3 linked regions of the Homo sapiens genome follow. The protein of the gene in region 3 interacts with the protein of the main gene of each other region in a biochemical or structural test. Each region holds a gene or a part of one and is shown on either strand. Other genes may lie near its edges.

What was found.
Region 1: the proteins of GIT1 (region 3) and HAP1 form a complex in vitro, tested with the Homo sapiens proteins (one study listed by BioGRID).
Region 2: the proteins of GIT1 (region 3) and PPFIA2 form a complex in vitro, tested with the Homo sapiens proteins (one study listed by BioGRID).

The regions. Positions count from the first base shown.
Region 1 is NC_000017.11:41,731,116-41,738,824, reverse strand, and holds the start of HAP1 (huntingtin-associated protein 1), read left to right. Parts: upstream 1-4,181; 5' UTR 4,182-4,190; coding exon 4,191-4,659; intron 4,660-6,026; coding exon 6,027-6,106; coding exon of another isoform or gene 6,107-6,130; intron 6,131-6,430; coding exon 6,431-6,595; intron 6,596-6,706; coding exon 6,707-6,888; intron 6,889-7,081; coding exon 7,082-7,187; intron 7,188-7,265; coding exon 7,266-7,332; intron 7,333-7,709. UniProt on the Homo sapiens protein: Originally identified as neuronal protein that specifically associates with HTT/huntingtin and the binding is enhanced by an expanded polyglutamine repeat within HTT possibly affecting HAP1 interaction properties.
Region 2 is NC_000012.12:81,258,823-81,266,607, reverse strand, and holds part of PPFIA2 (liprin-alpha-2), read left to right. Parts: intron 1-3,217; coding exon 3,218-3,377; intron 3,378-4,567; coding exon 4,568-4,626; 3' UTR 4,627-4,659; intron 4,660-5,397; exon of another isoform or gene 5,398-6,947; coding exon of another isoform or gene 6,948-6,976; 3' UTR 6,977-7,785. UniProt on the Homo sapiens protein: Alters PTPRF cellular localization and induces PTPRF clustering. May regulate the disassembly of focal adhesions.
Region 3 is NC_000017.11:29,579,062-29,586,846, reverse strand, and holds part of GIT1 (ARF GTPase-activating protein GIT1), read left to right. Parts: intron 1-3,230; coding exon 3,231-3,364; intron 3,365-3,809; coding exon 3,810-3,922; intron 3,923-4,043; coding exon 4,044-4,149; intron 4,150-4,506; exon of another isoform or gene 4,507-4,702; coding exon 4,703-4,920; exon of another isoform or gene 4,921-5,010; coding exon 5,011-5,105; exon of another isoform or gene 5,106-5,466; coding exon 5,467-5,509; exon of another isoform or gene 5,510-6,742; coding exon of another isoform or gene 6,743-7,056; intron 7,057-7,785. Other genes in the region: TP53I13 (tumor protein p53-inducible protein 13), read right to left, coding at 6,743-7,056. UniProt on the Homo sapiens protein: GTPase-activating protein for ADP ribosylation factor family members, including ARF1.

The sequences.
Region 1 (7,709 bases), about 12 Mb from region 3:
TCAGGGTGCCCCTCCACCCTGCTCCCCTGCAGAAAGTAACCCCGGTGCCTGTCCCCCCCAGGTCCCTGGCACCGACCCTTAGGGGCTCTTTCTATTACCTACCCTGTTCCAGGTGTTTTTTTTCCCAGGGTCAGGCCAGGGGAGGGGGCAGGAGGAGGGGCCTGAGCCACCTGTGTGCTGCCCAGGGCTGGGCACTGGAGTGAATGTGCCCCAGGTTCAGGGGGTGTGCACAATTAGGTGGTGGGTGGTCTGGCTTTGCAGCCTGGCAAGTCTTCTGCACCCTCCCATCCTCTTTCGGATCCAGGAGGGTCCATGGATGCACACTGGGAGGGAGGACAGGAGGCCAAGGGTCTTTGCTGTGTCTGATTTCTCCCCCTAGATGAGAAGCAGGAGAGGGAGGGGGTGGTTGACAGAGGAAAACCACTTGAGAGGCCTGGATCAGAGACTACCCCCAGTCTCCTGGACAGCCCTAGGCTGTCGAAAGGCAGATATCTGTCAGCCAGGCCAAAATGCTTACTTCCAGAATGACGGGCCCTGAGCCCTGGTTTCTCCATTTGTAAAATGGAGTCTCTGTCCCTACTCCACTTTCTGTGGGGCGACTGAGCCTGTAGGTGAGGAAGCCACGTGGGGAGGTATACGGGCTGACACTGCCCTCTGGTGGCCGTAGCCAGAGTTGCTGGCTGCCAGTGCGCTGACCTAGAGGGTGTGGTCAGCTGGGGGAGCTTTCAGGGTCTCCTAACTTCATCTCTGTCTTCTCCATCCCACTGCCTCTGCCTTCTTCCCCGTCAAACTCTCCAGGGGTTTCCCAGGGCTTCTTCCTCATGGGGCCAGAAACAATTTAATTCAGCAGGAGTGTAATAGGCTTCTTCTGTATGCCCTGTTCTGTGCTTGGTGGTTGGGGCTGCAGAGATGTCCAAGGCACAGAGAGACAGTCCAGGAAGCTGGGCTGTGGGAGGACCACTCGGCAGAGCCTATGGAGCTGTAGCCTCACGGAAGCCTGGGCTGTGCCGATGCCCGAACAGCCACCTCCTTATGTTCTTCAACCTCACTGTCGTAGCAAACCCTGGGGTTGTGTGTCTCCTTCAAGCTTTCTGCTGACAAAGAAACCATAGGAAACATGCAGACTTTGGGCTGGGCACAGTGGCTCACGCCTGTAATCCCAGCACTTTGGGAGACCAAGGGGGAGGCGGATCACGTGAGGTCGGGAGTTCGAGACCAGCCTAACCAACATGGAGAAACCCCGTCTCTACTAAAAAGACAAAAGTAGCCGGATGTGGTGACGCATGTTATTGGGGAGGCTGAGGCAGAGGCAGGAGAATTGCTTGAACACGGGAGGTGGAGGATGTGGTGAGCCGAGATCGTGCCATTGCACTCCAGCCTGGGGCAACAAGAGCGAAACTCCGTCTCAAAAAAAGAAAAAAAAAAGAAAGAAAGAAAGAAAGAAAATAAAACATGCAGACTTTGAACAAGGAGGAGAACGGTTATGTTATGAAAGTTCCTCCATTTCCAGAAGTATTCTGGGAGATAAGCTCTCTTTTCTGCACCTGTTTTCTCCTCCCTGAGGGAACATTTCCATCAGCATGTAAACATATTGTCCTCTCTCCCATCTTCAAAACACACTCCCCAGCACTCATGTCCTCCTTCAGCTCCTGTGCCCTTTTCCAGCTCTCCTTTGTTGCAGATTTCTTCAATACAGTTTTCTATACTGTCTCCCTTCCTTCCTTCCTTCCTTCCTTCCTTCCTTCCTTCCTTCCTTCCTCCCTCCCTCCCTCCCTCCCGCCTTCCTTCCTTCCTTCCGACAGGGTCTTGCTCTGTCACCCAGGCTGGAGTGCAGCCTCGACCTGTGCTCAGGTGATCCTCCCACCTCAGCCCCTGAAGTAGTACAGGTATGCACCACCATGCCCAGCTATGTTTTTTTTTTTGAGACGGAGTTTCGCTCTTGTTGCCCAGGTTGGAGTGCAATGGCGCAATCTCGGCTCACTGCAACCTCCGCCTCCCGGGTTCAAGCGATTCTCCTGAGTACCTGGGATTACAGGCACCCGTCACCATGCTCAACTAATTTTTTGTATTTTTAGTAGAGACGGGGTTTCACTATGTTGGCCAGGCTGGTATCAAAATCCTGACCTCAGGCGATCCACCCGCCTAGGCTTCCCAAAGTGCTGGGATTACAGGTGTGAGTCACTGCGCCCGGCCAATTCTTGTATTTTTTTGTAGCGAAAGGGTTTTGCCATGTTGCCCAGGTTGGCCTCAAATTCCTGGGCTCAAGCAATTCACCCTCCTAAGCCTCCCAAAGTGCTGGGATTATAGGTGTGAGCCACAGCGCCTAGCCTTCTTTCTGTTTTCATTTTGTTACCTCTCGTTATTTCCTCACTCCTCTTTGGTCTCTCTCACCCCCTCTACCAAGACCGCTCTTTTTTTTTTTTTTTTTTTTTTTGAGACAAGTCTTGCTCTGTTGCCCAGGCTGGAGTGCAGTGGTGCAATCTCGGCTCACTGAAACTTCTGCCTCCTGGGTTCAAGCAATTCCCCTGCCTCAGCCTTCCAAGTAGCTGGGCTTACAGGCTTGTTCCACCACACCGAGCTAATTTTTGTATTTTAGTAGAGATGGGGTTTCACTATGTTGGCTGGGTTGGTCTCAAACTCCTGACCTCAGGTGATCCACCTGCCTTGGCTTCCCAGAGTGCTAGGATTACAGGTGTGAGCCACTGTGCCTGGCCCCGCAAGACCGCTCTTGCCGAGGCCATGACCCCAGCTCACCAAGGTTGCCCATGACCCCAGTTTGCCAAGCTGAGTCTCTGTCCTCAGTCTTTGCCTGGCCCAACAGCACCACCCAACACAGGTGGCCACTCTCTACATGAAACATTTTCTTTACTTTCTAGGACCCAACTTTCCTGGTTTTCCTCTACTTCACTGCCCCACTCATCCCAGTCTTCCTTTGATGCCTCCTCTTCTTCTTTCTGCCCTCTGAATCCTAGGGGGTTAGTCCTGGGCGCTCTTACCTGTCTTCTCTCAGTCTCTTGGGGATCTCACCAGTCTCATAGCTTTAAATGGTCATCAAAGAACAATGACTCCTACATTTAAATCTCCAGCCCGGTCTCTCCCCTACATTCAGATTTATACATCTAATTGTCTACCCAACATTTCCAGTAGGATACTTAAAAAAAAAGTATTCTATTTATTTATTTATTTTGAGGGGTAGGCTCGCTCTGTAGCCCCAGCTGGAGTGCATTGGCACAATTTCGGTTCACTGCAACCTCTACCTTCCAGGTTCAAGCAATTCTCCTGCCTCAGCCTCTTGAGTAGCTGGGACTACAGGCACACGCCACCATGCTTGGCTAATTTTTGTATTTTTAGTAGAGACAGGGTTTCACCAGGTGGCCAGGCTTGTCTGGAACTCCTGACCTCAGGTGATTCGCCTGCCCCGGCCTCCCAAAGTGCTGGGATTACAGGCGTGAGCCACTGCGCCCGGCTACAGGGAGACTTTTAAGAGGCGTCTCCCAAGGAGAACAGGGGTTCGCCAGCATGGCAAGAGGAGGGCAAAGCGAACTAGGGTTGGAGGTGAAGAACAGTTAATCCAATCAAATGGAAGACGTCGAGTGGCGCGAGCACTGGGGTGTGAGCGCGAGGGTCAGGGTTGCAGCGCCAGGCAGGGTTGCAGCGCCAGGCAGGGTTGCAGCGCCAGGCAGGGTTGCAGCGCCAGGCAGGGTTGCAGCACGTTGGAAGCGCACTGGAGTTTGGAATGTCTCTCCCAGTCAACCGGGAAAGACGCAGCGCTGCCCTAATGCACTGGCCACCCCAGACCGTATGCACAACGTTGGGTTGGCAGCTTCTACACCAGGGAAGGCACCCGAAACCCCGGCGCGGCAGCTGGGGAGGGGCTGCCCCCAGCCAGGGACCCGCGAGTGCTGGGGCAGCCGCGGCTTTGGGCAGAACCATTCTCCGGAGATGGAGAGGGCAGAAAAAATCTTTCGCTCCCATCCCAACTCGGAGCCATCCGGAACTTGCACTCGCCCTTCTTGCCCTGCTTTTCTTACTGTGCTCTGTTCCGTCACCACTAGCTCCCCTCCCGCGCGGCTCTGAGTCCCGCTTGCCACTAGTTGCTTCTCGGCAGCCCCCACCCCTACGCGTGGTCCGGCCCGGCGGCTGGCGCAGGTTATAAAGGTCCCGCCGCAGCAGCGGACGGCAGACTCGAGATGCGCCCGAAGAGGTTGGGCCGGTGCTGCGCGGGGAGCCGGCTCGGACCCGGGGACCCAGCAGCACTCACCTGTGCACCTTCGCCCTCAGCCAGTCCCGCTCCGGAGCCCTCTGCGCAGCCGCAGGCACGGGGCACTGGACAGAGAGTAGGATCCCGAGCCACCTCTGGATCCCAGTTCCTCTCGGAAGCCCGCACCGGAGCTCGCCCGGCCTCGGAGGCTGGAGCCAAGGCAGGAGCCCGGCGCCCGTCCGCATTCTCGGCCATCCAAGGGGATGTCCGGTCTATGCCCGACAATTCGGACGCGCCGTGGACCCGCTTCGTATTCCAAGGGCCGTTTGGTTCCCGGGCCACTGGCCGGGGGACTGGAAAGGCAGCGGGCATCTGGAAGACGCCAGCCGCCTACGTTGGCCGGCGACCCGGGGTGTCCGGCCCTGAGCGCGCCGCCTTTATTCGGGAGCTGGAGGAAGGTAAATCGGGCCCCCGGGGTCCTGGACCGGGTGGGGACTGGGGCAACTCCAGGGAGGAAGTGGCCCCATCGGGTCCAGGCACCCCGCCCCCTCTAGCACTCAGTGTCACCCGTCCACCACCCCCGCGATGTCACTGCGGTGTCTGTCTGGTCGCCCCTTCTCCATCTCCTCCTCTGCTCTTGTCCCCTGGTTTGTGCCCGTGAGTCAGGTTCTGGGGCCTGCACGCTCGCCCACCCACCTCCACGCGCCTCTTGCTGCGGCAGATCTGCACCCCTTCAGCGCCCCTCTCCTGGGTCTACCGCAGTGCCAGGAGAGGGGCGGGGGGCTGCGGGAGGGCGCTGTCCCGCGCGCTCTGAGTCTGCGCTGGCCGACCGGGCTTGCGTGCGATGGAGGGGTGGGTGGGCGGGCGGAGGGGGAAGTTTTGCCCACTTTTTGGTTGCGGGTATGGGGGCAAAGTCGCGCTCTTTTCCTGCCCCTTGTCTCTCCTATCCTCCTGCGGGTCGGGGGAGATCTCTGGATTGGGCCTAGAGGCTCGAGTGTCTCCTAATCTGGTGAAGTCTTCCTCCTGTCCTCTGCACACGCAACAGGTGCAGGGTGAGTGGCTGCGTCTGTTTGTATGACCCAGGAGACTCCATTGCACTGCCTCCTGGGTAGGGGGTGATGAGCCAGTCTGAGGCTGTACTTCCCCTGGCTGTCTCCATTCTAGGCGCCAGGGACCCAGGTGTCCGGAGAGCCCAGTTTCTGAGCCTGGAGGACTGTGACCCCCTTACCTCAGGCTCCTCCAGGGGTAAAAAAAAAAAAAAAAAAAAAAAAGCCGGGCGCGGTGGCTGACGCCTGTAATCCCAGCCAGCACTTTGGCAGGCCGAGGCGGGCGGATCACTAGGTCAGGAGTTCGAGACCAGCCTGGCCAACATGGTGAAACCCCGTCTCTACTAAAAATACAAAAATAAGCTGGGCGTGGTGGCGGGCGTGTATAACCCCAGCTACTCGGGAGGTTGAGGCAGGAGAATTGCTTGAATCTGGGAGGCAGACGTTGCAGTGAGCTGAGATCTCGCCATCGCACTCCAGCCTGGAGGACAAGAGCAAGGCTTTGTCTAAAAAAAAAAAAAAACCAAAAAAAAAAAAAACCAAAAAAAACCCAAAAACCTAAAAACCCTGTCCACTTGGCCCTGGGAGCAGGGAAGGGAGTGTTGAGTGCCGAGGGGTAAGGGGAGGATGTGGGGGGCAGGAGGGGAGCCCAGTCTTCTCTCCCGATGACCCTTGTTGGAGAACTGACGATAGGACGGGAAACAGCTGTTTGCTGGTAGCATCTGCTCCTTTTTCCTGACCTGGCTGGGCCTTTTCTCCCCACCTGCCGCCTCCTGCAGCACTGTGTCCTAACCTACCTCCGCCAGTCAAAAAGATCACCCAGGAAGACGTCAAAGTGATGTTATATTTGCTGGAGGAGGTGTGTACTGCCTTCCTGATCCAGGCAAGCCCTTATTCTAGTTTTGTCCTGTAGGGGTGGGGGTCTTGTTTATTTCCTGATTGGCAGTCTCTCTGGGGCCCCAGGTTAGGGTCCTTCTTATGGAAGACAGGTCGATGTGGGATGTTCAGGCTGGAAGAGCTCTCAGAGCCAATCTGGTCTGATCTTCTTTTTCCATGAGGGGAAACTGAGCCAGGTTCCACAGTGGGTTAATGGCAGACTCTGGTCTGGTACCCTAGAGAACTAGGGGATGGGGAAGGTTCTCTTAGGGGCCTAGCCTCTCTCTGACCCCTGTGTCCCCCCCAGCTTCTCCCACCTGTCTGGGAGAGCGTTACCTATGGGATGGTCCTGCAGAGAGAGAGGGACCTGAACACTGCAGCTCGCATCGGCCAGTCCCTGGTGAAACAGAACAGTGTTTTGATGGAGGAGAACAGCAAGCTGGAAGCCCTGCTGGGCTCAGCCAAGGAGGAGGTAACCGGGTGGGGAGGAGAGGATAGCGGGCCAATCTACACCTGCCTCATGCCAGGACCCTCTCCTGTCCCTGCCCACTCCCAACCCATGGCTCCTCTCTCTTCCTGCCAGATTTTATACCTCAGACACCAGGTGAACTTGCGGGATGAGCTCCTCCAGCTCTACTCAGATTCTGATGAGGAGGATGAGGATGAAGAAGAGGAGGAGGAAGAAAAGGAGGCAGAAGAGGAACAGGAAGAAGAAGAAGCAGAGGAAGACCTGCAGTGTGCTCATCCCTGTGATGCCCCTAAGCTGTGAGTTCCTGCCTTTGCACCTGCAAGTCCTTTCTCTGAGCCTCAATTTCCTCATTTGTTAAGAGGGACACAGGTGATGTGCTTGCTGGCAGGGTTGCTGGAACTAATTGAGAACACTGCCCTTAGCCCTGGTGGGCTGGGAACTGGGAAGCCCCACTCCCTGCACCCTGACTCCCATTCCTCCCTCCCCTAGGATTTCGCAGGAGGCATTGCTGCACCAGCACCACTGCCCACAGCTGGAAGCCTTGCAGGAGAAGCTGAGGCTGCTGGAGGAGGAGAATCATCAGCTGAGAGAAGAGGTGAGAATGGGGGAGGAGGGCGTCCCTGCTAGCAGGGGGTGTTGACTTCCCTGTCCCTTCCTCTTTGTCTCCCTCCAGGCCTCTCAACTCGACACTCTTGAGGATGAGGAACAGATGCTCATTCTGGAGTGTGTGGAGCAGTTTTGTACGTAATGTTGTCACTCGGGGTGGGGGGTTGTCCCAAGGAGCAGAGAAAAGAACTCAAGATGTGGAGTATGGAGATCCAAGTTCAAGTCCCAGATCTGGCACTCCTAGCTGTGTGAACTTGGATACATTCCTTGACCTCTCTGAACCTTTGTCTTTAGAATGGGGATTAATTTTCTCAGCCCCACTGATCTCTCCAGGGTTTATGAAGATTAAGAGTGTCAACAGCTGAGGAAGTACTTTGTGCAAACTATAAAGAGCTATACAGAAATTGTGGGTCTCAGGCCAGGCACGGTGGCTCATGCCTGTAATCCCAACAGTTTGGGAGGCTGAGGCCGGCGGATCACCTGAGGTCAGGAGTTTGAGACCAGCCTAACC
Region 2 (7,785 bases), on a different chromosome or scaffold from region 3:
AGTGCGTGTATTTCTTAAATATCAGTATATCTTGCCAGGAAATTTTAGAAAATTAAAATGAGGATAAAACTTGCTTCAATAAATGGAAAGCTTTTTATTATTTTATATATTGATACTGAGTTTTCCTTCAAAACAGATTAATAACATTTTAACAGTCATAGAATTTGAAAGCTATATTGAATATAAGAATCGCTATATAATATGTGCATATTAAGTTATTTGGAAAATAATAAACATGTAAGTAGCCTCCCGAGATGAATGAATACAAGGGATATCAGCAAATGCTGTGGACTGTAGACATTTTAATAGTCTTTCTGAGTTTTTCTACAGGGTCTTTCTGGAAGAAGTGGGAAGGAAACCTGAGCATGAAATAGAAAATAAAGAGATGCATAATTCTGTGTTGCAAAGTACAGGTGTTCCTTACTACAAAGACAAGCTGATTAAAATTATTTTGTGAAGACCTCAGCAAATTCAAATATGGACCAATCATTCTATATTCAAATAGGCAGGACAGATAATCTTGGTATTATAAAATCCACTCTGTCCTTTATGGTGGGGATTATAGAGAGATAAGTTCTACAGTCTTGAACTCAGCTAACTTCTGATAAATTCATGCTCTTATTCAATCAGCATAATGATTAATATTTTTAAAAGCCTCGTCTTATAAGTTGCATGACAGTCTTTTAAATCCTTACTAGAAATTATTGATTCAAAAAGGTAGTCTTATAAACTCATACATCTTAAAATACAATTATTCTTACTTATAAGTTGCAAAAATTTCTAATAAAAAATTATTGAAGAGTTGTCATATTGCTACATTCTCTTAGGAGCTGTCCAGGTGTGGGGTAGCTTCTTAATAGTAATGAACTAGAAGAAAAGTCTATTGAGCCAATTAAACGAGATGCGACTCGTTGTCTTTAAACTATGCTGCTGCTTTTTCTTATTTTTAAAAGCACAAAATAGAATTTTGTCATTTAAACCCTCTAGTCTCTTTTGTTCAATTTTATTTTATTTTTTAGTGTGAGCAAAAATAGCCAACTTACTTAGAACAGTAGTGGACTTATTTCTGCGGTTTTGCTGATCACATTCAGATTCCACTGAAATAATCTGAGAGGTGTCAACAAGCTTATACAGACTTTGACCCCAATTAAAAGAATTAACCCTATCTCATGAAAAGTTTTCCCCATGATGTTGTTGTTTATAGTTCTATCAACTTTCTGCAGTAACAATATGTTGAAAGAACAGAAGTCAGGAATCATAATTCAAACGCTTAACTCTAAAAACTGGCAATTTTTTTTTTTTTTTTTTTTTTTTTTGACAGAGTTTCGCTCTTGTTGCCCAGGCTGGAGTGCAATGGTGTGATCTCGGCTCACCACAACCTCCGTCTCCTGGGTTCCAGCGATTCTCCCACCTGAGCCTCCCAAGTAGCTGGGATTACAGGCATGTGCCACCACACCCATCTAATTTTGTATTTTTTAGTAGAGACAGGGTTTCTCCATGTTGGTCAGGCTGGTCTGGAACTCCTGACCTCAGGTGATCCGCCCACCTCAGCCTCCCAAAATGCTGGGATTACAGGCGTGAGCCACCACGCCCAGCCAAAACTGGCTTATTTTTAAGCCCCTAGCTACGACACTGTAAGGAGTTGTGTAGCTCTACAGTGTAACATAGTGTTTTATAAAACTGAAGACTATTTATGCTTAATGCAAAAACTTCTCCAAGAATCAAGAAGTCGTAGAGGCTGCAACTGTGAAATTCTGTTTCTTTTCTACATTTACACACATTTGGAGATCTAGGGCAATGAAAAACACAGCAGTTGGGAAGAGTAGCGGACATCTCTTAATGTGCAAAATGGCTACCACACTGAAACAAAATGTAGATTTTAATGATGATAAGGATTGAAACAGTGGATATATGTTATTATATAAAAATGATTTTATTTTTCCCTGATTGACTTTAAATGTCCCTTAATTAATATAGCAGTCTACAAAGCCTACCTTATAGAATTATTCACTATAACATAGCACAAATTACTATGTTGAGTGAATATAGACTTATTATTCCAAATGCCAGAATGAAATCAAATGAGATATTAGGATACACAACATATACTTGGCTATACCTATCTATGGCATAGATAGTCCTTCCCTAGATAAGAAACAGTGAGATGAGAAGACAAGACCTATGTGGAATGATTCATATTTTCCTTGGAATTAGACACAGAATATTCATTGACTGCTGAATTATATATTGCTACTTGCCAATTTGGAGGAAAATAATTATGTCTGTAAAAGTACTTTATGTACACAAAGAGAAGGAAGAGATTATTTTATTAAGGCATAACAAAATCAGCAACCAGAATTAAAATGTAATTGCTATGCTACATTCTAAAATGTGGATTCACCCTAGGATCTGTCCAAGTAGAGACACTAGCCTATGTGGGGTATGATGTTGCTTCCTGATAGTAATGAACTAGAGAAAAAGTCTACTGGGCCAATTAAATGGGATGTGACTCTCTGCCTCTGTGTATATTAAAATACACATTATTAAAATGTAACCAGGGTAATATTATGCTTTCGGTGGTACCCAAAGACCACATGTACTTATTGAAAGGATGGTGTCCAGGCTACACAGATTTTTCAACAAATTGCAAGTTAATTCTGTGTCACCTAAAACTTCACAAATCACATATTTAGAGTTTCTTGTACAGATATTATAATAGGCTACAGTGTCTCATATTAGCCATGCCATCTCAAATATAGATTTCCCCAAAATAAATACCTACATTGTATTTGTGTACATAGAAGTCATTTCATTCAAGTGTGTGAGTTAAATGTAGTCTACTCAACAACTGATTCAATTAAGTATATCATCTCTTTCCATAAAACCCGTCGGCATAAAGTGGAACAATGTATATACAATATTTATTTTGGAAAACATTGGTTGCTTATTTTAGGCTTTCAAGGATATTTACTGTATAGATGTCAGACCTTAAATTTGAAATTGTATGAAAAGTTTTATTTAAAAATTTATATATCAAATCTCCTATAGTCTTGTTTTGGAATCATAGAACTAACTATCTTGATAAAGCGTGATTCCATACGTATACTTGACAGACTAAATGTAAATAATCTATGTTACATGTTTCTAAGCACAGAGCTTTAAGCACATGGACTAGTTTACTTGTTTTCATAACATCACCTTATAACTGTACTGGCAGAGTGATGACAAGAACTTCAGACGTGGATCAACCTGGAGAAGGCAGTTTCCTCCTCGTGAAGTACATGGAATCAGCATGATGCCTGGGTCCTCAGAAACATTACCAGCTGGATTTAGGTTAACCACAACCTCTGGGCAGTCAAGAAAAATGACAACAGATGGTACAGTAGTTTTGCATTGCTGCTTATCAAGCAAAAAGCTTGTTTAGCCAAAGCTAGTATAATTCTCTGACCTTGCTTTTTGGAATTATTTTCTTGAGTTGGTTTGCTCTGCTTGAAATTTACTTTGCTCTCATCACAAACCAGACTCCTTTTTACACTGCTATTGCATGAACTCATGGCACTTTATTCACATTTTCAAAATAATTTATAACATCCCAAAAAGAACAATTTGGTTAATGTCCACCTCTAGGAGGAACAATAAACATCGGCAGGATTTGTGTTTCTTTAGTCTTCTATTCCCAAAATTAACAATTTGTTTAAGTTAGAGGTTGGACTTGGACTAAAGATCCATAGTAAATGGAAATTAACTCCACTGTCTCCCTACATGTTTAAATACTGCGAGTTTTATATGTCATCTTAGAAATTCACTCATCAAATATTTTTCCCTCTAGCCAAAGCAGAAGCCCTTAAATAAACAAGCCATGAACATGAGAAGAGAATTAAAGAAACACAAAACACAGTAATTTCCCAATTACTATTTCCTTCTGTGGACATTAGACTTAAGCTATCTAATTTACAAAAGAAAAGTCATTCCAGAGGAGAGACAACTTTGAAATAGTAGTCACAAAATTATTTCTGTTTGGGAGGCATTAAAGAAAAATAGTCCCATGCTATTTGTTAAGATAATCACCTAGCATCATTATTTCTTGTCAAGGTCACAGTTATTATAACTCAAATTTAGTTCCAACATAAACTGTGATCTTGATCTACATTTCTTACAACTTGTTAATACGGTGGAACATGTCAGCGAAATTCATGAGGAATTTAACATCATTACAATTAGTGTAGAAGTTCTTCAATACTTGGAAAGGAAAAAAAATCCACTATAATGAGTTCTCTAAGAGCAATCTCCATATCAAAATCAGAAGCACCCTCGGGAGCTGCTCTTGTTACCGATTTTATCTAAGGAAGAATACATAACAACTCAAAAGCTCAGGTCATTTACATTGGGATAAATTTTCATTAGGAACTTGATCTAGAGAAGAGGAATGTGAGTGGCTTATATCTGAGAGAAAGAAGGTCTACTAATATGTTCGGAATCCCTGTATGCAGGGAAAATAAATCTTTCTCATCTGAAATCTTGTACTCAATCATCCAAGTCCCTCTAAAGCCCTTTTCTCCATTTGCAGTTGCTTCATCAAGACTGCAGAGGTTAGACAACTCCACTGTTCGCACATACTCATGTTGACCAGCCACTCAAAGGAGGCAGCACTGACCTGCTGTGAGTAGTTTCCCTTTGGCTGACAAAAAAAAAAAGACAAAAAAATGGAACCTACATAGACTAATAAATATACACTATACTCTTTGGTATGCCCTAGCAGTACAGAAATGAGATAACCCTTTTGAATTGCTTCAGGGGAAAAAGAAATCTTCATATTGTAACACTTAGTCTAGCATTTCCTATCACCATCTGTCTCCTGTGGTTTAAGGTCTGCCTGTTGGAGGCCTATCACTGTATTATTACACATCAATGGGTTGCCACTACACTGTTTTCTACTTTTTAGTACCATTTCCTGTTGAGTAACTTAGCATTTTATTGATAATAATTCAGCACTTTAAAAAATCCTATCTTTTTAAGTGTATATTTTATATAAGGAAGCCAAGGTAGCGGATAGGGATTTAAGCAAGTTCACCGAGTCAAATAGCAACAGACAGGAAAATGATTTAGAGATGGTTTCATATTAAAAAATAGAAACTTGCCGAGGCAGGTGGATCACTTCAGGTCAGGAGTTAGAGACCAGCCTGGCCAACATGGTGAAACCTCATCTCTACTAAAAACACAAAAAGTAGCCAGGCATGGTGTTGCACTCCCATAATCCCATCTACTTGGGAGGCTGAGGCAAGAGAGTCACTTGAACCTGGGAGGCAGAAGTTGCAGTGAGCGATGGTGCCACTGCACTCAAGCTTGGGTGACAGAGCATGACTCCGTCTTAAAATAAATCAATAAATAAATAGTAGAAACTGTGAAAAATTCAAACCTTTATTACATTGTTTCTTATCAATCTGATTTACACTTGCTAAAAACAAATATAAATTTTAAGTATTTAAGACATATAGGAACAAAATAAAATTACTTTAAGAATGGAGAATAGGACCAGCACAAAACCTTCCTATGTAACCATAAATACCAAGCATTTGATTTTAAGGAAATACCAATTAATGAAAGCTACTTTAAAATCCATATAAAAATGAGGTTTTATTGAAAAACAGTCTTAATAGTAAAACTGTGGTTTCTTAGATTTATAAATGTCAAATGTTCATAATTTTTTTTCAACCTAAAACTATGCTTTACCAAAATATTTAACCACTTTCGATGAATCAATATTTTAGAAAAATACTTTTTAAGAGCGATATTTAGAACAAAATGTGTGCACAGGGTTAAGAGAAAACAGTTATAGACAGAGGAACAACTCACCTTGTGCTGTTTTCATTGCCTTGAACTAAAAGTGCCACACAATTTATTGTTGGTCTTTTGGGCTTAGGATGGGAGCAGATATGCTGCCTTATTTGGATCACTATTTGAAGCTGATAAAATGAAAAGCATCCCGATAAGAGATTTAATTTCAGAATGTACAACCCTTACATTAAAATTTTAATTATGGTATATAATTTGGCACCTAATTAGACATGATTTAAAGTATATAATAATTTGGCTAAATAAGAGGTCTCCCAAAATACTGTTTATATTAGATTCTACACATAGCATTATAATTTCTTCAGGAAATGAACACTTCACTAATTTACAAATGACTATTTAATATGTTCAATAGTGCTTGCTTCTTAGCTCTTAAGTGATGGGTAGAGTTACTCTATTTGCAATCTGTTTTTTGTGCATGACATTCTAGTTCATATTTCCTAGTTTTTACCATTAATTGGGATAACAGTATTCATTTACAATAATTCAATCTAGGACAACCATTTTTTGTTTGGGTGAAACAACAACACTTTTGATATTAAAATAATCCAGAGCATACTACTTGCTGTTTCTTTTGTGTCAGTAATAGCAATTGTGAGCTTTTTCTAAGTACATTATGGCTGAAAACAATCAGCAATGCCATACTACTGACACAAACGTTTACAATAGGTGACTTATTATCGTTATGTTTTTGTAACAAATAAAGGTATTTTTTAAGAACTCTAAAATATATGAACTAGAATATAAATCTACATTATGAAATAGGTCAATTCAACCCAATTTATTAATTAGCAAGTTGTAAATTTTTCAGAAGGCATGCTAACATTTTGCATAACTACCTTTGTTTACATTACTGCCATACTTTCCACAAAGTTGAGCAAATTCTATTATTTGTTAAGCTCCCCTGCACCAAATTGGAGAAAAGCAAATGTTAATTACATACGGCTGTTGGCTACATCCTAGATGATTTCCTTCTCATGATCTTCTAGGACAGGAGTAAGCAGGCTGCGTGGAGGTACACCACAGAGGAGTAGAATGAGATTTCCCAGTCTGGGACTTTTCAGTGAACTAATGCTATCCATTGTATATTTTAGATGGCGTCTTTTCAGTCTACTCTACCTAAAGTGCACTACCATCTAAGAAGACGAGCAGTGAAAACCTTTGTGAAAACTGAATTCTAAGGAAATAATGACGTCATGACTTATTAAAAGCTGAAAAATGTGATTTTTGGGGGGAGTCAGATATTACATTTGATTAGTTTACTACAAATTGTAATAAAATGCTTAAGTCATTTGAATAATAAACATCATCTACATCATAAACTCTGTACAACAGATGCTTTTATGAAATGAAGCCAGTTGTTTTTCATGTTTTATTGTAATATACTAGGCATTTATGTATTACCGTGCATTTCTTTTTAAATGTGTAAGTCTTATGTAAATGGATATAAATATGATTTTTTAAAAAATAAAATATATGGTTCATGGAGTCTCGAGTGCAAACATTTGACAATTCCAAGTACTGTTTGTATTTTACCATTCCACCATTTTTACAGTTTTTGGATTGTTAATAGTCAAATCAATATGTTTCCTTGAAGCATGTTTCATGCTTCAACGTGTTTCTCCTTCAAGTCTGTCAATACTTAAAGCTGAACAACCTGCCTCTGATCATGTAAAAAAGAATGATTTAACCTGGAACCGGAGCCAAAAATAGAGCTTTAAAGGCAATCAGGGATGTCCTATATCTTTAGAAATAGCACTGTGATGGCTTGATCTCCTTTTCAATACAAAACAAAGCCAAGCTGTTTACAAGGGTCAAAAGCAATTATTTAAAAATTTATATTAAAAAACCATAATCTTCTCTTGTTACCTGTGGACCAAGAAAAAAAAAAAGATAAAAAAACTTCTTTACTAAGAACCACATGTTCATTCA
Region 3 (7,785 bases):
CCAAGAGAGGAAGGGGGCAGGGAGCCCTGGAGAATGTGCATCTTCCCCTTTCCTTAGGCTTGGCCCACCTCGCCACACGATCTCAGTCAAGGGCCTCTCCTCACCCCATGGGCTTCTATCTCAGCCTTTTCCACTTTGGCAACCCTGGGGGTGAGAGTGAAGGCCTCAAGATGCCTGTCCTGTAGGTATCTCTGGTGAGCAAGGCCGGGGACATGTTACGGGACAAGCTACAGGCTGATTTGTCTCTTCATAGTGTAGATTGCAGAGTGGGACAAATGTTGGGCTCCTCTTCCTCCCTTATGGAGGTAGAATTTGTGTGTGTCAATGCCTGCACCTGAGTGTTCATCCTGATGGGCTTTTACATGTGTGTATACCCATGTAACTACTGCTCTGATCATGTTATAGAATAAGGGTATCCAATCTTTTTGCTTCCCTGGGCCACATTGGAAGAAGAATTTTCTTGGGCCACACCTAAAATACGCTAACACTAATGATAGCTGGTGAGCTAAATAAAACAAGCAAAAATAAAAATAAAAAATAAAGTCACAAAAAAGTCTCATAATGTTTTAAGAAAGTTTATGAATTTGTGTTGGGCCACATTCAAAGCTGCCTGGGCCGCATATGGACTGCAGGTTAGACAAGCATGTTATAGAACATTTCCATCACCTTAGGGGGCTTCCAAGTACCCCCTCCCAGTCCGTGCACCCCAGAGGTAACCACCATTCTGACTCTACCCCAAGGACTACTCTCGCCTGCCTTCATGATGTGGGCTTTTCCCTTAGTCTAGTGGAGATCTGGCCCTTAGCTCAGGGGAGGGAGGCCTGAGGCTAGCCTGTATGTGCAAACCTACTGGCCCTGGAGGCCACTGATGGCTTCAGGTGGTGGCAGGAATTCACCGTAGTAGAGGCCTCCATGGGGTTGGCACTGGTTAACGTGATCCCAGGATCACGCCTGCTACCTCTCCACACATACAGACCCATACCCTGCCGGTGGAGCCAGAAGCGCAGGGGGAGGGCTGACGAGTTCCCTTACAGTTCCTGTCCTTTCCGTCCCAGGTTTGGTCCAAGGAGCTTCTTGACGCAAGGATCCCTTCACCTTAAACTACAATCTGGGTAGTCCCAAGGGCACTTGCACAGAGGGAGGAGACAGAATGGTTAGGGTGGGCGTCCCATCTGTGTCATCCAGAAATGAGCTGACACCAATAGCGGCTGCCCAGACCAGGACAGTGTCCTTTGCCTACCATTCTTCTCAGGTCACCTGGAGGAGAAGGAGAACCCCTCCCCCAGGCTGGGGGAAAGTGCCAGGCAAACCCTTGGACCACACTCCTGCATCCTGGTCTTGGTTACTGCCATAGCCAGGGTCACTCACCACATCTGGTCTGCCCATGGCTTAGGGCTCTGGAGCCATTGGCCGTGGATATATAGTCAGCCTTCCATGCCTGGCTTCTCCGGTAGGACCACAGACCTCAGATCAGCCCATTTATGATCCTGCCCTGGGCGGCTCCCCACTTACAGGAAACCCCACCAAGAGGAATTTGGGCTGCATCATTTCCGGCTTCCTGCCTGGGCTGCTGGAGGTGGCTGGCTGGCAGCCCCCTGACCCAGTGGTGTTTGGAGTGGGGAGAGGGAGGTCTCCACACCTGGGGTGCCTCACTATTTGGGTAAAGCCAGCCCAGAAGTGCATGCTAGGGCTCCCCCTCTTGGCGAAGAAGGCTGGTCCCTTCCTCCTGAGCCCTGGAGTCAGCCCCCCAGGAAGGTGTTGGCGGTCACCTTGGGCATCCCTCTGTTGCCCTGATTGGGAGGGGGTCCCTTAAAAAGCCTAAACCCGCTGCACTCCAGCCTGGGCGACAGAGCGGGACTCCGTCTCAAAAAAAAAAAAAAAAAAAAAGCCTAAACCCAAAGACAGGCCTCTCTCCTTTACTTCCTGTTTTCATGCCTCAGTGGGGGTCACTTGCTGTGGGCAGAGCTCAGGCTGGGCCCCTGACTCAGAGTCTCCTCAATTTTCCTGGGAACTTTGGTGGAAGTCCTTAGAGGGGAAAGGCCTGAGAATTGCCTTCTAGTTGGGAGAGATTCTTATCCCCCTAAGCCTGTCCCTCCCCTGATGGGGATACTTCTGAACACCCTGAGCGCTACAGGGCAAGGCAGAGAGCCAGTCCCCCACCCCCACCCCAGGACAGGGTTTCCTGAGACAGGGTGGGGGCCGCTGGGCAGAGCAAAGTGTCCTGGGAGAGAGGCGCCCTGCCCCCACTCTCAGGCGGCACACAATGGCTGCTTTCTCCCCCGTGACCTTTCCGCAGCCTGAGTCGTATGCAGCTGTCTCCCAAGGGGCCTAGGATGGGTGGCATCTCCTCCACCCTTGAGAAGAACCCCGGAACTCCCACCCAGTCCTGGCCCTGCTTCTTCTCCCAAGTTCACTTTTCCCAAAAGAGTGGAGAGCAGGCTATAGAGGCAGAGGGACAGCAGCAAGTGTGGACATGGCATGGTCTCAGGCATGAAAGTGCCACATCCTGGCAATTCTACTCATTAGCCTCGCATCCTTGAATAAGCCCTTTAACCTCTCTGAGCCACTGTTTCTTCATCACAGAGGTAGCATGTCCTACCTTGCCTGACAGTTGCAAGCAGCATCACACATAATGTACCCAGCTGGTACCTAGTGGGTGCCCAGTCAAGCCCAGCTCCTTTGCTCTGTCCATCTTCCTTAAGAGGGCTCCAGCTTACACCCTCAGTGATGATGGCAGGAGGCTCCAGCATGAAAGGACCTCACCTGCTGGCAGGAGGCCAGAGGCAGGACCTGTGGACGGGTGTGATCTGTCAGGCATGTTTCAACAGCATCTGGCATGCAGCAGCATCTGGGTTGCATCCCCTTGGGGATCCCTTCCTCCCTTCGGGACGGGCTGGGGCAGAGACCTCGTTTCCTGGGAAAAGGCTGAGAGACTGGTAGCAGTGGCTGCAGGGCAGGAAACTGTGCCTGCTGAATGGGCCCTGGGGACTGCATATCCCAGAGGGGTAAGGATGTAGGAAAGGGCATGGCTCTGTCAGCCCCCAGCTGTGAGCTCTTGGGGAGATCCCTCACTGGTAACCTGGCCGTAGTGATGGTCCCAGCTCCTAGGCTGTTGGAGACTGAGTGAGTGAATGTGTGGAGAGTACTAGGCTTGGCACGGGCCAGAGCAGGTGCTCAGGAGGTCTGGCCCATCATCTGGCTCCGGCTGACCCTTGCCCTCACCCTGGCAGACCCTGGCTGGGCATCCATCAGCAGGGGTGTGCTGGTGTGTGACGAGTGCTGCAGCGTGCACCGGAGCCTGGGACGCCACATCTCCATTGTCAAGCACCTTCGCCACAGCGCCTGGCCTCCCACGCTGCTGCAGGTACAGGGCTCAGTCGGGTGGTTCTTCCTTCCCCTCAGGCAGAGTGTGCTGAGCATGAGGGCGTTTCCCCCTCACCCACATACACCCCCATCTGGAATCTGCAGCTTCCAAGGGGCAGCACCCCCCTAGGGCAGAGGCTAATCCTGACCCTTTCCTCCCATCTACTCACTTCATGCAGAAGAGTAGCTCACACCCCTGCTCTGCCACTTATCAACGTGGTCGTGTAGCATTGAGCAAGTTGCTTCACCTCTCTGAGCCTTGGCACACTCATGGGATCTGTGTCTTTGGGCAGCTGGACTAGATGGAGGTGTGGTGGTGCGGGCACACAGTAGGCCCCCTTGGTACCGTTTCCAGCTACGCCAGCCACAGCAGGCGCTCAGGAAGTGTTTCCCCCATTGCTTAGCACGCAGTGGGCACTCTCTCACTTGGCATCTCTTCCCTGCAGATGGTGCACACGCTTGCCAGCAACGGGGCCAACTCCATCTGGGAGCACTCCCTGCTGGACCCCGCACAAGTGCAGAGCGGCCGGCGTAAAGCCAACCCCCAAGACAAAGTCCAGTGAGTGGGGCTGGAGGGGTGGTGGGCAGAGACTGCGCAGTCCGGGACAGGGCCCTGGGAGGTGGCAAGGTGACCACCCTCTCCCACCATGCTCCCCATTCCTCCTGTGTGCCCCATGCAGCCCCATCAAGTCAGAGTTCATCAGGGCCAAGTACCAGATGCTGGCATTTGTGCACAAGCTTCCCTGCCGGGACGATGATGGAGTCACCGCCAAAGACCTCAGCAAGGTTTGAGGGGCCCTACAACAGATGGGTGGCCCCCTCCTCTTCTTCCCATCCACGACTCTCTGAAGGCCTCTCCTTTGTCCCCACTGAGCCCTGGGCCCCAAAGGCAGCCAGGTCAGGGTAACAGTAGACAGGGTGGAGAGAGCAGATTGTTGGGTCAGGCCGTGTGTGGCTGAGGCTCCCCAGCAACCAAGTAGACACACAAGGCTAGAAGCCCACAGCTGCCACTCAGAAGCTGGGAAAACCTGGGGGTAGTTGCTTAGCCACTCATAGCCTCAGTTTACTCATCTGTAAAATGGGAAAGAAATAACAGCATCTACTTCATAAATAGTATCTAAGCAGGGCACACAGCACACGTGGTAGATGGTGACTGACGGCAGCGTTTATTAATTGGCATTAACCCCTAGCGGGAAGCCTCTGTCCTCCCGACATAGTCTGGTTTGGGCAGGCCTCCTTGGAGCTGCTAGGTGTCCCAGGGGCAGCCAGGGTGCAGCTTGTGGGTGGGGAGGTGCGCCTCACGCACATGCGTATTCACTGCACACTCTGCTCCTCTTAGCAACTACACTCGAGCGTGCGGACAGGCAACCTGGAGACATGTCTGCGCCTGCTCTCCCTGGGTGCCCAGGCCAACTTCTTCCACCCAGAGAAGGGCACCACACCTCTGCACGTGGCTGCCAAGGCAGGACAGACACTGCAGGCCGAGCTGCTTGTAGTGTATGGGGCTGACCCTGGCTCCCCTGATGTTAATGGCCGCACACCCATTGACTATGCCAGGTGAGGGTCGGCTGAAGGGTGCAGTGTGGGTGGGTGGGGGTGTGGGTGAGGGCTGCTGCTGCAGGTCTGAGCCATACCCCCTCCTCACAGGCAGGCGGGGCACCATGAGCTGGCGGAAAGGCTGGTTGAGTGCCAATATGAGCTCACTGACCGGCTGGCCTTCTACCTCTGTGGACGCAAGCCGGGTGAGCAGAGCTTGGGGGGCGCCTGGCTGTGACAGGCCTGGCTGGGGCTGGGCAGGTGGGACCTGGACGCACCCGGCAGCAGGTGCCATGGTGACAGAGCGGCTGGGGAGCAATGTTGCTAGGCAACTGGCTCCTGTGAAATTACTGCAGGCTCTGGGCCATAGCATCGCTGGGGCTAGGGAGTGGGGGTGGGCATCCTGCATCCTCCCACGAGCTCCCAGCATTCTTGGGGGTGGCCTGCCCTCCCCACTTTCCCCTGACACTTCTGGGTGCCAGCCCTGCTCATGGCAGTGAGGTGGGCTCCCAGCTGCTGAGGCCACCCAGCACTAGTGAGTGACTTGGCATTTTTATTTTTGTTCAGATCACAAGAATGGGCATTACATCATCCCACAGATGGCTGACAGGTGAGTGCCCACCTGATGCCCCTTTCCAGAGGCTGTTGGATGCCATGTGGGTGGCTGACCCCCAGAGCTCCCAGCCCAGGTTTCAGAGGCCTAGGACCCTGCTCCCTCCCCCCAGAGACTAGAGGCACAGCTTAGTCCTCAGTCCCTAATGCTGGGCCCCAAGGCAGGTAAAAAATGTCAGCTCCATATGTGGCCCGCATAGCCTGAGCCCCGTGACTGTCAAGTACATGGAGGGCTTGGGTGTGAGAAGCTACCTGTGGGCCGGGCGCGGTGGCTCACGCCTGTAATCCCAGCACTTTGGGAGGCCGAGGCGGGCGGATCACCTGAGGTCGGGAGTTCAAGACTAGCCTGGCCAACATGGAGAAACCCCGTCTCTACCAAAAATACAAAATTAGCCAGGCGTGGTGGCGCATGCCTGTATCTCAGCTACTCGGGAGGCTGAGACAGGAGAATCGCTTGAACACAGGAGGTAGAGGTTGCGGTGAGCCGAGAGCACGCCATTGCACTCCAGCCTGAGCAACAAGAGCAAAACTCCAAACTCCGTCTCAAAAAAAAAAAAAAGAAAAAGAAACAGAAGCTACCTCCGGCTGGGAGGGTGGGCCACTGGGTTCTGTCCCAGTGGCACCGACCCCACTGTCTTTAGAGAAGCCTCTGCTCTTCGCTGAAAAGATGGGTGGGCTTCAGGGATGTGACTAACTTTGTGACTGCTGGCTAGGCCTCTAGCGTGCTCAGAATTAGGCACGTGCGCTGAGGCTGGTTGAATGAGGTGTTTCTGCTTCCGTCTGAGAGGCAGTGTGGGACACCCCCTGCCACTCACCCAGCACATAAGATGGATGCTGGTGCCACCTGGTGGCCACCTCTGATGGCCATGTCCTCATGCCAGGCTGTGCCTGCTGGCCTGGATCTGGAGAGAGGAGGTGCTCTCCTCCCCAAGGGCCTGTGTGGGCAGATGGGCATAACCAGGCCTGGGCGACTCAGATCCTAAACCCAGACCTCTTCCAGACCCCAAGGCTCCTACTTCTATGGTCTGATTCTACCTGGGTTGTGTGTGCATGCGTGCATGTGTATGGTAAATACACCCAAATATGGGCTCCATTCAACAGCACATTAACTGAGCACCTTCCCGGAGCCAGCTACTGCTCTTGGCACTGGGAGCACAGAGGCAGCTGAGACACAATCCCTGCCCTTAAGGAGCTCACAATCTAGCTGGGGAGGCAGCCTAGCCAGGTGATTCTAGTCCTCATGGGGGAGTGCAGCAAGAGAGGCAGAGGCATGGAGGGTAGAAATGCTGCATGGGAATGGAGGCAGCCCCCGGGCTGGAGCACAGCATGGGAGGCAGGGAACCCTACAAGCAAGACTGGGATAGAGACGAGCTGGAGAATGAGCAGCCCCGAGAGCATCAGCAGGAGCAGTGACCATCCCGAGAGCGGAGAGTTCCAGGCACAGAAGTGTGAAGTCATCTCTGCTGCTTACTGGCTGTGTGACTTGCAGGCTGCTTGACCTCTCTGAGCCTTGGTTATCTCTCCTGGAAATGGAGATGACAGCATCTATTTTTCAGGGAGGAGAGGATTAGATAAGAATGTATGCAAAATGTTTAGCCTTTTTTTTTTTTTAAGAGTTGGGGTCTCGCTCTGTTGCCCAGGCTGGAGTGCGGTGGCTTGATCATAGCTTACCACAGCCTCAAACGATCCTCCTACCATAGCCTCTTGAGTAGCTGGGACTACAGGCACATGCCACCGTGCTCAGCTAATTTTTAAATTGCTTTTGTATCTCTGTGTTGCCCAGGCTGGTCTCCACCTCCTGGCCTCAAGCGAACCTCCCACCTTGGCCTCCCAAAGTGCTAGGATTACAGGTGTGAGCCACTGTGCCCGTCCCTAGGGTATTCTGATGAAGTATGTTTGGAGTGTGCCATATGCACCTGTTATCACTGCAGTGCCTTAAGGCAAGGGGTAGTGCAGCCAGGTGTATCCAAAAAATCACCCTGGCTGCTGGGTGGAACAGGATTGTAGGGACAAAACTAGAAGGAGGGAGATTAAGAAACTTACAAAGCCCAGGCAACAGGTGATTGAGGAACCTGGGGAGCTTCACTAGGACTGGAGGGTGAGGGAGGCTTCAGGTGACTGCCAGGTGGCTGACACTGGTGGTGGACAAACAGGTCACTGAGAGGAAGAGCAAGCCAGAGGAGGAGGGGTGGGGGACGCGGTGAGATGAATTCAGCTTTGTCCCTTCTGGGCCGGGTGTGCGTGGAGATGGGTCTGGGCCTGATGTGAAAAGGC